Linked DNA regions of Homo sapiens: region 1 is linked to region 2. The links come from fine-mapping of genetic effects on gene expression. Tissue or cell type: breast. Region 2 holds a variant in brackets; the other region holds the start of a gene. All regions are shown on one strand. Distances are from middle to middle.

What was found. PIP is the estimated chance that this variant, and not a neighbour inherited with it, causes the effect.
Region 1: MRPS10 starts here. The variant in region 2 is fine-mapped to the expression of MRPS10 in breast (GTEx, PIP 0.94).

Annotation. Positions count from the first base shown.
Region 1 is chr6:42,214,995-42,220,141 of GRCh38, reverse strand. MRPS10 (mitochondrial ribosomal protein S10) reads left to right here and starts at 2,281. Exons shown (of 7, transcript NM_018141.4): 1 at 2,281-2,340. The coding sequence starts at 2,293. RefSeq lists enhancers at 2,114-2,393, 2,965-3,566, 3,567-4,169.
Region 2 is chr6:42,170,828-42,175,974 of GRCh38, reverse strand. It overlaps GUCA1ANB-GUCA1A (GUCA1ANB-GUCA1A readthrough), which reads right to left. Exons shown (of 5, transcript NM_001319062.2): 2 at 2,161-2,642. The coding sequence starts at 2,361. GUCA1A (guanylate cyclase activator 1A) reads right to left here and starts at 2,611. Exons shown (of 4, transcript NM_001384910.1): 1 at 2,161-2,611. The coding sequence starts at 2,361. The variant G/A (reference allele first, on the strand shown) is at 3,063.

The DNA.
Region 1 (5,147 bases), 44 kb before region 2:
AAGCAACTATTGGAAGCAGGAACTACTGTTATCTTTTTTTTTTTTTTTTTTTTGACATATGAGCAAACTGAGGCTGAGGGTAAGGAAGTAACTTGCTCAAAGTCACTCAACTAACTGGTAAGCCTGGGATTAGAAACCAGATCTGATTATAAGGCTAGAGTTTTCCATTAGGCTAAAATGCATATGTGAAAGCACTTTGGGGAAATAAAGCTTAGAAATGTGAACAAATGGGCCAAGTGCAGTGGCTCATACCTGTAAAACCAGCACTTTGGGAGGCCAAGGTGAGAGGATTGCTGGAAGCCAGGAGTTTGAGACCAGCCTGGGCAACATAGCAAGTCTCTGTCTCTACAAAACAATAAAAATAAAATAAAAAATGGTCGCAAACACCTGTAGTTTTAGATACTCCAGAGGCTGTGGTGTGAGGATCACTTAACCCCAGGAGTTTGAGGCTGCAGTGGGCTATGATCAAGCCAGTGCTCTCCAGCCTGGGCAACAGAGCGAGACACTGTCTCACACACACACACAAAAAAGACAATATAGTATTATAGAAGCAGACTTTAAGATGAGGAGAAAGTAAAAGGAAAAATAAAAATAAATTTTTAAAGATTTGCACAAATGGAATAAGTTTTTTTTTTGGAGACGGAGTCTCGCTCTGTTCCCTAGACTGGAGTGCAGTGGTACAATCTCAATCTCGGCTCACTGCACTCTCTGCCTCCCGGGTTCAAGAGATTCTCCTGCCTCAGCCTCCCAAATAGCTGGGATTACAGGTGCACACCACCATGCCTGACTTTGTATTTTTAGTAGAGACAGGGTTTTGCCATGTTGGCCAGGCTGATCTTGAACTTCTGACGTCAGGTGATCCACCCGCCTTGGCCTCCCAAAGTGCTGAGTGCTGGAATTACAGGTGTGAGCCGAGCCACTGCACCTGGCCTTTTCTTTTCTTTTCTTTTTTTTTTTTTTTTTTTAGACAGAGTCTCATTGTGTCTCCCAGGCTGGAGTGCAGTGGCACGATCTTGCCTCACTGCAACCTCCACTTCCCGGGTTCAAGCAATTCTCGTGCCTCAGCCTCCTGAGTAGCTGGGACTACAGGCACACAACGATGACACCCCACTAATTTTTTGTATTTTTAGTAGAGATGGGGTTTCACCATGTTGGCCAGGCTGGTCTCGAACTCCTGACCTCAGGTGATCCGCCCACCTCAGCCTCCCAAAGTGCTGGGATTACAGGCGTGAGCCACCGCACCCAGCCTGAAGAAGTTTTTATTATAGCAAATCCCAGTTATACATCTTTTTACTTGGAAAAAATTATGGTGGACATTAATAATTAGACAAAACACTTTGGCTTGTTGTAAGTGAAGCTAGCCATTGTAAATTCCTAAATACTAGAGTAACATAAGGAAATGAATAATTTAGAAAGATCAGTAGGACAGCGGTATACAAAATGGTTGGAGCACAGGAATTCCAATTGGTGTGGGGAAGGAAGAAAGGATTAAGAACCATAATTAGAAAGCCGCTGCAATAAGGTAACTGAGTGGCAACTGGACCCAATGGTAGTGGCCGACTTTTCTTTTTCTTGTTAAATATAGATTTTGTTAAAATTTTGAAAAATGCAAAAAAAATTGAAAAATGCAAAAATAGGAAAATAAATCACCCATTATTCCAGTACTGAAGTAAATGGTGTCAATACACTAGTTTCAGTCCGGGCTTTGTGGTTCATGCCTGTAATCTCAGTCCTTTGGGAGGCCAAGGCCAGAGGATCACTTGAGGACAGGAATTCAAGACCAGCCCACAAAATAACGAGAGCAATATAATGAGACCCTGTCTCTACAAGAAAATTAAAAAAAAAAACAAAAAATTAGTCGGCTGTGGTGGCACGCACTTGTAGTCCAGCTACTTGGGAGGCTGAGGCAGGAGGATCACTTGAGGCAGGAGTTTGAGGCTGCAGTGAGCTATGACTGTGCCACTGCACTCCAGCCTGGGCAGCCGAGTGAGACTCAGTCTCTAAAAGGAAAAAATAAGTAAATAAATAAATGTGTGTGTGTGTGTGTGTGTATACACACACAACAATTTAAAGGTGAAAACATTAATAGGGCTTGGTAACTATCCAGACACTGGCCGGAGCCAAACCAGCCTGGCCAGCCAACTGTCCCGCCCCCAAAAAGCACAGGTTCATGTCTCTATGGTTGTTCCAGCGCCGGAACATGAGGATGTACTCTCTTCTTTTGCGGAACTCTATGGTCTGAGGACGCCGCTGTAACCCCGGAAGCAATCCTGAGAGGTCGGGACCGGCAAGATGGCGGCGCGGACAGCGTTCGGTGCTGTGTGCCGGCGCCTCTGGCAGGTACTGGATTGGCTAGGGAGACTAGGAGGGCTGACCGGGATAGTTGCTTTTAAGTTTCCCTGCCACCAGCCGCTCTGCCCATCAGGATTTTTCCTGATATTTATCCCTCACCTCGCGCCGTTTACAGGAAAGTGACGAGAAAGGGGCTAGTTTTATCAGAATTCTCTCATGGAATTAAATATAAGTTAGTGAGTCCAGGCAAAGATAGGAACAAGAATAATCGTAGAATGTCAGAGCTGGAAAAGATTTTGTACTTCGTATGTTCCAAAACCCCTCCTTTCACGCTTGCAAAATAAACTGAGGCTCAGAGAAGACAGGAAATTTGCCTCGCGAAAATTAGAGGCTGAGCTGGTGCAAGATATCAGACTCTTCCCATGGAACTAAATTGAGATGCTTTCCTGGCATCCAAATTTAGATGAAGGTCTCAAGCCAGAGAAGTGGGTTAGATATCCTCTGCGCAGTTATTTGCAGGAGGAGCAAAAACTTTTCAGCAGCGGTTCTCCTGCTTTTTGGCCTTGGGACCACTTTACACTTTCGGAGTTCAGGACTCCAGAGAGCTTTTGTTTTTGTGGGTTTTTGCTATCTATATTTAGCTTTTTGGAAAATAAAACTTAAGAATATATATTGATTTAAAAGTAACACTAACTCATTACATGTTACAACTAATACTTTATGAAAAATATATTTTCTGAACAAACTGAGTAAGGAGCAGCAATGTTTTACATTTTTGCAGCTCTCTTTAATTTCTGGCTTAATAAAAGCTAGATTCAAATCTGCTTCTGTATTTAATCTTTTCCTATATCACACCTCAGGCTGTCACGGGAAAACTTCACTGTACACTGGTAAGAGAATGAGTGGAAAAGTTGTAAATGACGTTTTGGTTTTATGAAAATAGTTTTGATTTCCCGGATCCCCTGAAAGTGTCTCAGACCCCACAGACGTCCTCAGACTACACTTTGAGACCACCGTTTTTGTTTTTGTTTTTGTTTGGAGACGGAGTTTCGCTCTTGTCGCCCAAGCTGGAGCGCAATGGCACGATCTCGGCTCACTACAGCCTCCACCTCCCGGGTTCAAGTGATTCTCCTACCTCAGCCTCCCGAGCAGCTGGAATTACAGTCATGCGTCACCATGCCCAGCTAGTATTTGTATGTTTAGCAGAGACGGGGTTTCACCATGTCGGTCAGGCTGGTCTCGAACTCCTGACCTCAAGTGATCCGGCAGCCTCGGCCTCCCAAAGTGCTGGGATTACAGCCTTGAGCCACCGCACCCGGCCTGAAAACCACTGTTCTTGAGAAAAGTCAGATGGTATTAGAGATTGAAATTTTTGAACTGCTTTATTAAGACAAATTTACCCAGACAGCCCTCCCTTCCAAACCACCACTCCCCCAACACACACACACACACACACACACACACTCTCTCTCTCTCTCTCTCTCTCTCTCAAGAAATACAAAGAAAAAATGCAATTTAAAAACTTCTTGGCCGGGCACGGTGGCTCACGCCTGTAATCCCTACACTTTGGGAGGCCGAGGTGGGCGGATCACGAGATCAGGAGATCAAGACCATCCTGGCTAACATGGCAAAACTCCGTCTCTACTAAAAATACAAAAATTAGCTGAGTGTGGCGGTGGGCCCCTGTAATCCCACCTACTCAGGAGGCTAAGGCAGGAGACTTGCTTGAACCCAGGAGGCGGAGGTTTCAGTGAGCTGAGAATGCTCCACTGTACTCCAGCCTGGGCGACAGAGCAAGACTCTCTCAAAAAAAAAAAAAAAAAGAAAAGAAAAAAAAAAGAAAAGAAAAAGCAGAGGTTTATAGTGGGAGAATGTGACTGAGAAGTGTAATATTCTTGCTCCTCTTGCACAACTCGATTGTGGGGTCACTGGTGTAATTGTTGGGAGGGAATTTTCTATGCAATTTTGTCTGAAGAATGGCACATACCTCTTACCACTTTGTGTTGTACCTGATTTCCTTTTTCCTTTTCCCCTTTGGTGCAAAGAAGATTATAGAGTTATGATTTGTCTCTATCTTGGGTAAGGAGAGGAAGGACAATAAGCTAAGAATAGGCTTTTAAAACGTGGCTAGGTGGTGGTTCACTCCTGAAATCCCAGCACTTTGGGACACTGAGGCTGGAGGATCGCTTGAGCCCACGAGTTCAAGACCAGCCTGGGAAATATGGTGAAACCCCATCTCTACAAAAGTACAAAATATTAGCTGGGCCTGGTGGCCCGTGCCTGTAGTCCCAGCTATCTGGGAGACTGGGGTGGGAGGACCACCTGAACCTGGGAGGTCCAGGCCATGATCATGCAACTGCACTCCAGCCTGGATAACAGAGTGAGACCTTGTCTCAAAAAAACCCTGAAAAAACAAACAAAAACGTACTTAGGTGACAATCATTTGTATTAATGAAACTTCACTTATGCTAAACTTCTTTTTTTTTTTTTGAGAGGGAGTCTCGCTCTGTCACCCAGCCTGGACCTCCGCCTCCCGGGTTCAAGCGATTCTCCTGCCTCAGCCTCCCAAGTAACTAGGATCACAACCGCACCGCCACCATGCCTGGCTAATTTTTGTATTTTTAGTAGAGACAGGGTTTCACCATGTTGGCCAGGCTGCTCTGGAACTCCTGACTACAAGTGATCCACCCACCTTGGCCTCCCAAAGTGCTGGGATTACAGGTGTGAGCCACGGCACCTGGCCTTATTTTCATCTTCATTGTGTTTTTAAGGATTCTATTGTGTTTCCACTTTCTCAGGTTACACTTCAAAATCTCAGAAAAGTTGAAAGGAAAAAACAGCTGTTATATGTAGTA
Region 2 (5,147 bases):
CTAGGAAATGCAGAGGTGGGAACCAGTCCCAGTTTTAAACAGAGTTTAAACCAGAAGATCACGGCAGGGGTTAGTGAGGAGACTTCTAAGCAGAGACTTGCAGCAGAGGAAGGTGTAAGCCGAGCAGAATTCTGGGGGCAGAGAGGGTCCCAGGCAGCACAAAACCCCTAAGGCGGGGGTGTGTGTGGAATAAGGGAGGAGGCCAGACTGCCTAGAAACAAGGGGTTGATTTACTTTCAGTGGAAAGACAAGGGTCAGGTTTGGTACAGTACAGGTGGTGCTCGCATGGGACACACATTAAGACATGGTTGGCTCAGCGTGGTGGCTCACGCCTGTAATCCCAGCACTATGGGAGGCCGAGGTGGGCGGATCACCTGAGGTCAAGAGTTTGAGACCGGCCTGGCCAACATAGTGAAACCCCATCTCTACTAAAAATACAAAAATTAGCCAGGCATGGTTGTGGGTGCCTGTAATCCCAGCTACTTGAGAGGCTGAGTGAGGCAGAAGAATCGCTTGAGCCCAGGAGGTGGAGGTTGCAGTGAGCCGAGATCACGCCACTGCACTCCAGTCTGGGCGACAGAGCGAGACTCCATCTCAAAAAAAAAAAAAAAAAAAAAAAAAGACATGATTAGGCAAATACAGGGTCGATGTGCCCCAGGGTTGCCCTCCCCCACCCCCACCGGCGTCATATGTGTGACTGTAAGGGTCCTTCTGCAGACATGTCTTAACCCAAAGGGTTTTCTTAGCAGGTGAGAAGATGAGATATGTCGCTGTTTGGGGGTAAGGTGTGAGGCTCAACCATCCATTTGTCCTTCCCCTCCTGTTCAGGAGTTATTCCTTCTTCGGGAGCATTTTGAGTGTTGAATGTGATGATGCCATCCCTCCCAGTCTCTGTACACAGGCTCTGGACTCTGCTCACCTGCTCCCGCTTCGGGAAAGCCCTTGGGCTCCCTCATACTACACCTGAGGTTGACACTCAAAGCCCGTAATCTACTTTGGTCCCTTATCCTTAAATATTAGTGAGTTTTAAATAGCCACTGAGCCCCAGCTTTCCCAAGAAGCCCCACCCATGATGGTGCCTGGACCTTCTGGGCAGCGAGGGAAGGAACCTCTCCCGGGTCTGCAGAGGACACGCGGCAGCGCCTCATTGCATCCTCACTTTTCAAGTGAGGGGCCACAGGGTGGGGAGCCACGTTTGCAGATTTGGGCTCTTCCACAACTATGTCTTGACCAAATAGTTCCAAATGAATGGAAGATTTACTATGAAAACCAACAAACATCTTAACTAATGCTCCCAACATCCACGGCATCATGAATATACTGGGACTGAGAGGGGAAATGATGGGCTCAAGGTCACCCAGCGGATGAAAGCTAGGGACCCAAACCCACAGTCCCAAACTCACCTTTCAGTGACCCCTCTAGCTTATCAATTAGGAAGTCCTTACCTAATGCGTCCAGGTGGCTACTGAGGAGACACAATTTGACCACGGTGTGGACCTTCAGGCTCACTTGAGAAAAGGTGATATGAGGTCACTGGGTATTTTGAAGTTGGGAGCATTCTGGGTTCTCCAGGGACCAGGCAACCCTGTCTGTCTCCAGTCCTCATGTCCGCAGAATATTATAAGTGGCCTGCCCATGCCAGACAGTGAGGCTAGAGAATCATCATCTTGCTCCCTGCTCTCTGCCCCTCTGCCCACATCCTTGGGAGCTTCAAAGGGTGTTTGCAAAAGCACCACGTATAGGACCAGCACATCGCAGGTGTTCAATGACCATCTTGGAAGTGTTTACACTCGTTTTGGAGTAAACCAAGATATGCCTGTGGCAGAGGTGGAGGAAGCCATTGGATTCAGCCTCGGATTACACTAATGTGTGGGCCTCTCTGTCTTGCCCTAGAAAGTGAGGGCAGGGACAATGTCTGATACATTTCTAACCCCCCAGTGCCTGATTCACAGTTGGTGCTCATTAAAGCACAAACATTAGATCCGTTGAAACCCTAGTGTCAAAAACCCACCTATCAAATAAACAAATGACTGTATAAATGAAGTTGCTCCCCAGCGGACACTTCTATGCTCCTCTCTGCTCTTCCTCACCCCCAGCTGGTCAGGCTTCCAGAGGGGTCCCTCCAGCACTTCCCCTCCCTGCCACTGGGCCCCTGCTCACCTTGTTGAAGTCAAAAGTCTCAAACATCTGTTCCACGTACTGGCTGGCCGACGGGCTCAGGTTCTTGAGGCCGAAGAACTGGCGGAACTCATAGAGGGTGAGTTGGCCAGAGGGGCACTCAGTCATGAACTTCTTGTACCACTGGTGGCACTCGGTGCTGCTCAGCTCCTCCACTGACTTTCCCTCCATCACGTTGCCCATTGCTCAGGCCTTCAGGGGGCTGACGTCTGAGATGGACAGGCCCTGTTCGCTGCTCCTCGCCCAAAGGTGTCTTGGCCGACAACGGGGCCGTCCTCTCTCACAGGCCTGAGTCCTTCAGGCCTGAGCAAAGAAGGGCCTGATGGATCAGATGGTACCGGGAAATGTGGAGAGGGAGAGAGCAGAAGGAAGAAGATGATGGCCCACACTCAAACTCACAGATGCCAGAGAACTGGTGTTAAGAGTCTCCACTAAATCCTTGCAGCCCCAGGGGAGACTGTACCCTGGAGAAAAGAGTTGAAAATAGAACAAGGCTTAGAGAAGCAGAGTCCTTAGGATTACAGCCTTGAGCTGTAGGTGAGAGGATTTTTTAACCCAGTTTGCAATCTTCTAATCCCTTCTTACCACCACGGAGTGGGTGTCAGCTAGAAGCTGCTCTGATCCTATGACCTTTGTGACCTTCTTCTCCTGGTTTGAGTGGATTCACAGTGGTTTTGGATTCTGCCTTCAATCATGGAATTGAGGTATATATGAGATAGAGCTGGCTTCTTGTCCAGAGATGGCCAACTGTGGGCTCTTGACAGGGCTGCTGTGTACAGTTATCCAGGCTGTGCACTGCACTTGGCCATCACAACTGAGGGGGTCCAATCATACCATGAGTGTGCTAACATTTGAGGGCACCTGGGTGGATGCAGAGTCTGTGG[G/A]CTTCCAAGATAAGCCTTGAACAGCCAGAGAGAACCCCCTCCTACATTAGCCTGCACCAGTACACAGAGACGTGCACACACATACACACACTCGTACACACTCATCCTGTTCTGGCCACACTCTCATGTTCCTGAAGGTTGCATCTCTCCCTTCTTGAGAGCCCTGAATTCATCCTTCCATCTAATTCTGAGCCTCACATCATCACCATCACCTACTAGGGGCACAGGGCAGGGGACATGGAGTGTGCGCCTGGTGCCCTGGGGTATGTGTGAGTGTGAGAGTGCAGGCACACAGGTGCATGGGTGAGCTGCTACCTGCTGGTCCTGGAAAGCTCCCAGGCCAAGCCTGGGGGCCTGTCTATGCAGCAACAGCTTTCTCTGATGCCTGGTGGGATGCGTACTCCCTAGCCACACACTTAAAAGCTGGCTCATTTATGGAACCAGCATTTGGGTGCAGGTGCACTTAACCTGGATGCTGCCAGGAAAGCTTAAAGCCAGCGCTTGCCCTGCCCTGTCTTTTTCTCTTGTTTGCCTTCCTCCTTTACATATGGGGCACACCCAGGTCTCCTAACTCATCTAGAGGGAACCACTGCCCATATTTCTGCTTTCCCCACCAGGGCCTTGGACACTTGGTCAAGTTGTGCACTGATACACAATTTATATGATTTATATAAATAATATATAATTACATGTAAATAGATTTATATAAATATACAATTTATACAACATATAACATATATCAAATACATGTGCATACATATTTCAGAATGGGCTAGGTTATGCTACAGTAACAAACCACTCTAAAATCTCAGTGGCTGAAAACAATACAAGCTTGTTTCTTGCTTACATTACTGGCTGGGTGACCTTGAGCAAGTAACTTAACCTCTCTGGGCCCCAGTTTCCTCATTCTTAAAATAGGAATAATGGCGCCCATCTGATAGGGCTGTTAAGGGGAGTAAGTGGGGCTGGGCACGGTGGCTCACACCTGTAATCCCAACATTTTGGGAGGCCGAGGCGGGTGGATCACTTGAGGCCAGGAGTACGAGACCAGCCTGGCCAACATGGTGAAACCTCATCTCTATTAAAAATACATAAATTAGCCAGGCGTGATGGTGCACACTCCTGTAATCCCAGCTACTCGGGAGGCTGAGGCAGGAGAATCGCTTGAACCCAGGAGGCGGAGGTTGCAGTGAGCCAAGATCGCACCACTGCACTCCAGCCTGAATGACAAAGCGAGACCCTATCTCAAAAAAAAAAAAAAAAAAGAGTATGTGAGTTAATATAAGAAAAGCATTTAGAACAAGGTCTGCCCCAGAGTAAGTGCCCCATAAATCTTGGCTATGATGTTATGATTTTGTATCTATTACAGCAGCATGTCTGATGTGCTGTTCACTACAATCTAGGTGCACTTATACTGCATCTTGGACACAGCAGCATCCCTGGGTTAGAGCCAATCGTGCTCTTGTCCCTTTAGCCCCATTCACTCTGGGCCCTGGACGGCCAGAAGGGCTATGTGTAGGAACAGACATCCAACCTGCCTCACACAGGCCACCTACCAGCTGTAGTCAGGCCCTAGGGAAGGTGGAGGCCTTTGTTAAAGCCTTACCAGATCCAGGCTCACGCCTGTAATCCCGGCACTTTGGGAGGCTGAGGCGGGTGGATCACAAGGTCAGGAGTTCGAGACCAGCCTGGCCAACATGGTAAAACCCCATCTGTACTAAAAATACAAAAATTAGCCAGGCATGGTGGTGGGCGCCTGTAATTCCAGCTACTTGGGAGGCCGAGGCAGGAGAATCACTTCAACCTGGGAGGCGGAGTTTGCAGTGAGCCGAGACTACGCCATTGCACTCCAGCCTGGGCGACAGAGAGAGACTCCATCTCAAAAAAAAAAAAAAAAATTGTTCATAATGAACATATGTTGCTCACAAAATCAAAGAGGATAGTTATTTTTGAAAAAGAGACAAACTGGGACTGTTTTACCTCTACTCCACATGAATTGATTGACGGAAGGTATATGGGGGTGGGGAGCTGGGTTCTCCCTGCTTCAGTCAGCTTCTCCACAACAAGTTAAGGGACGGGGAGAGA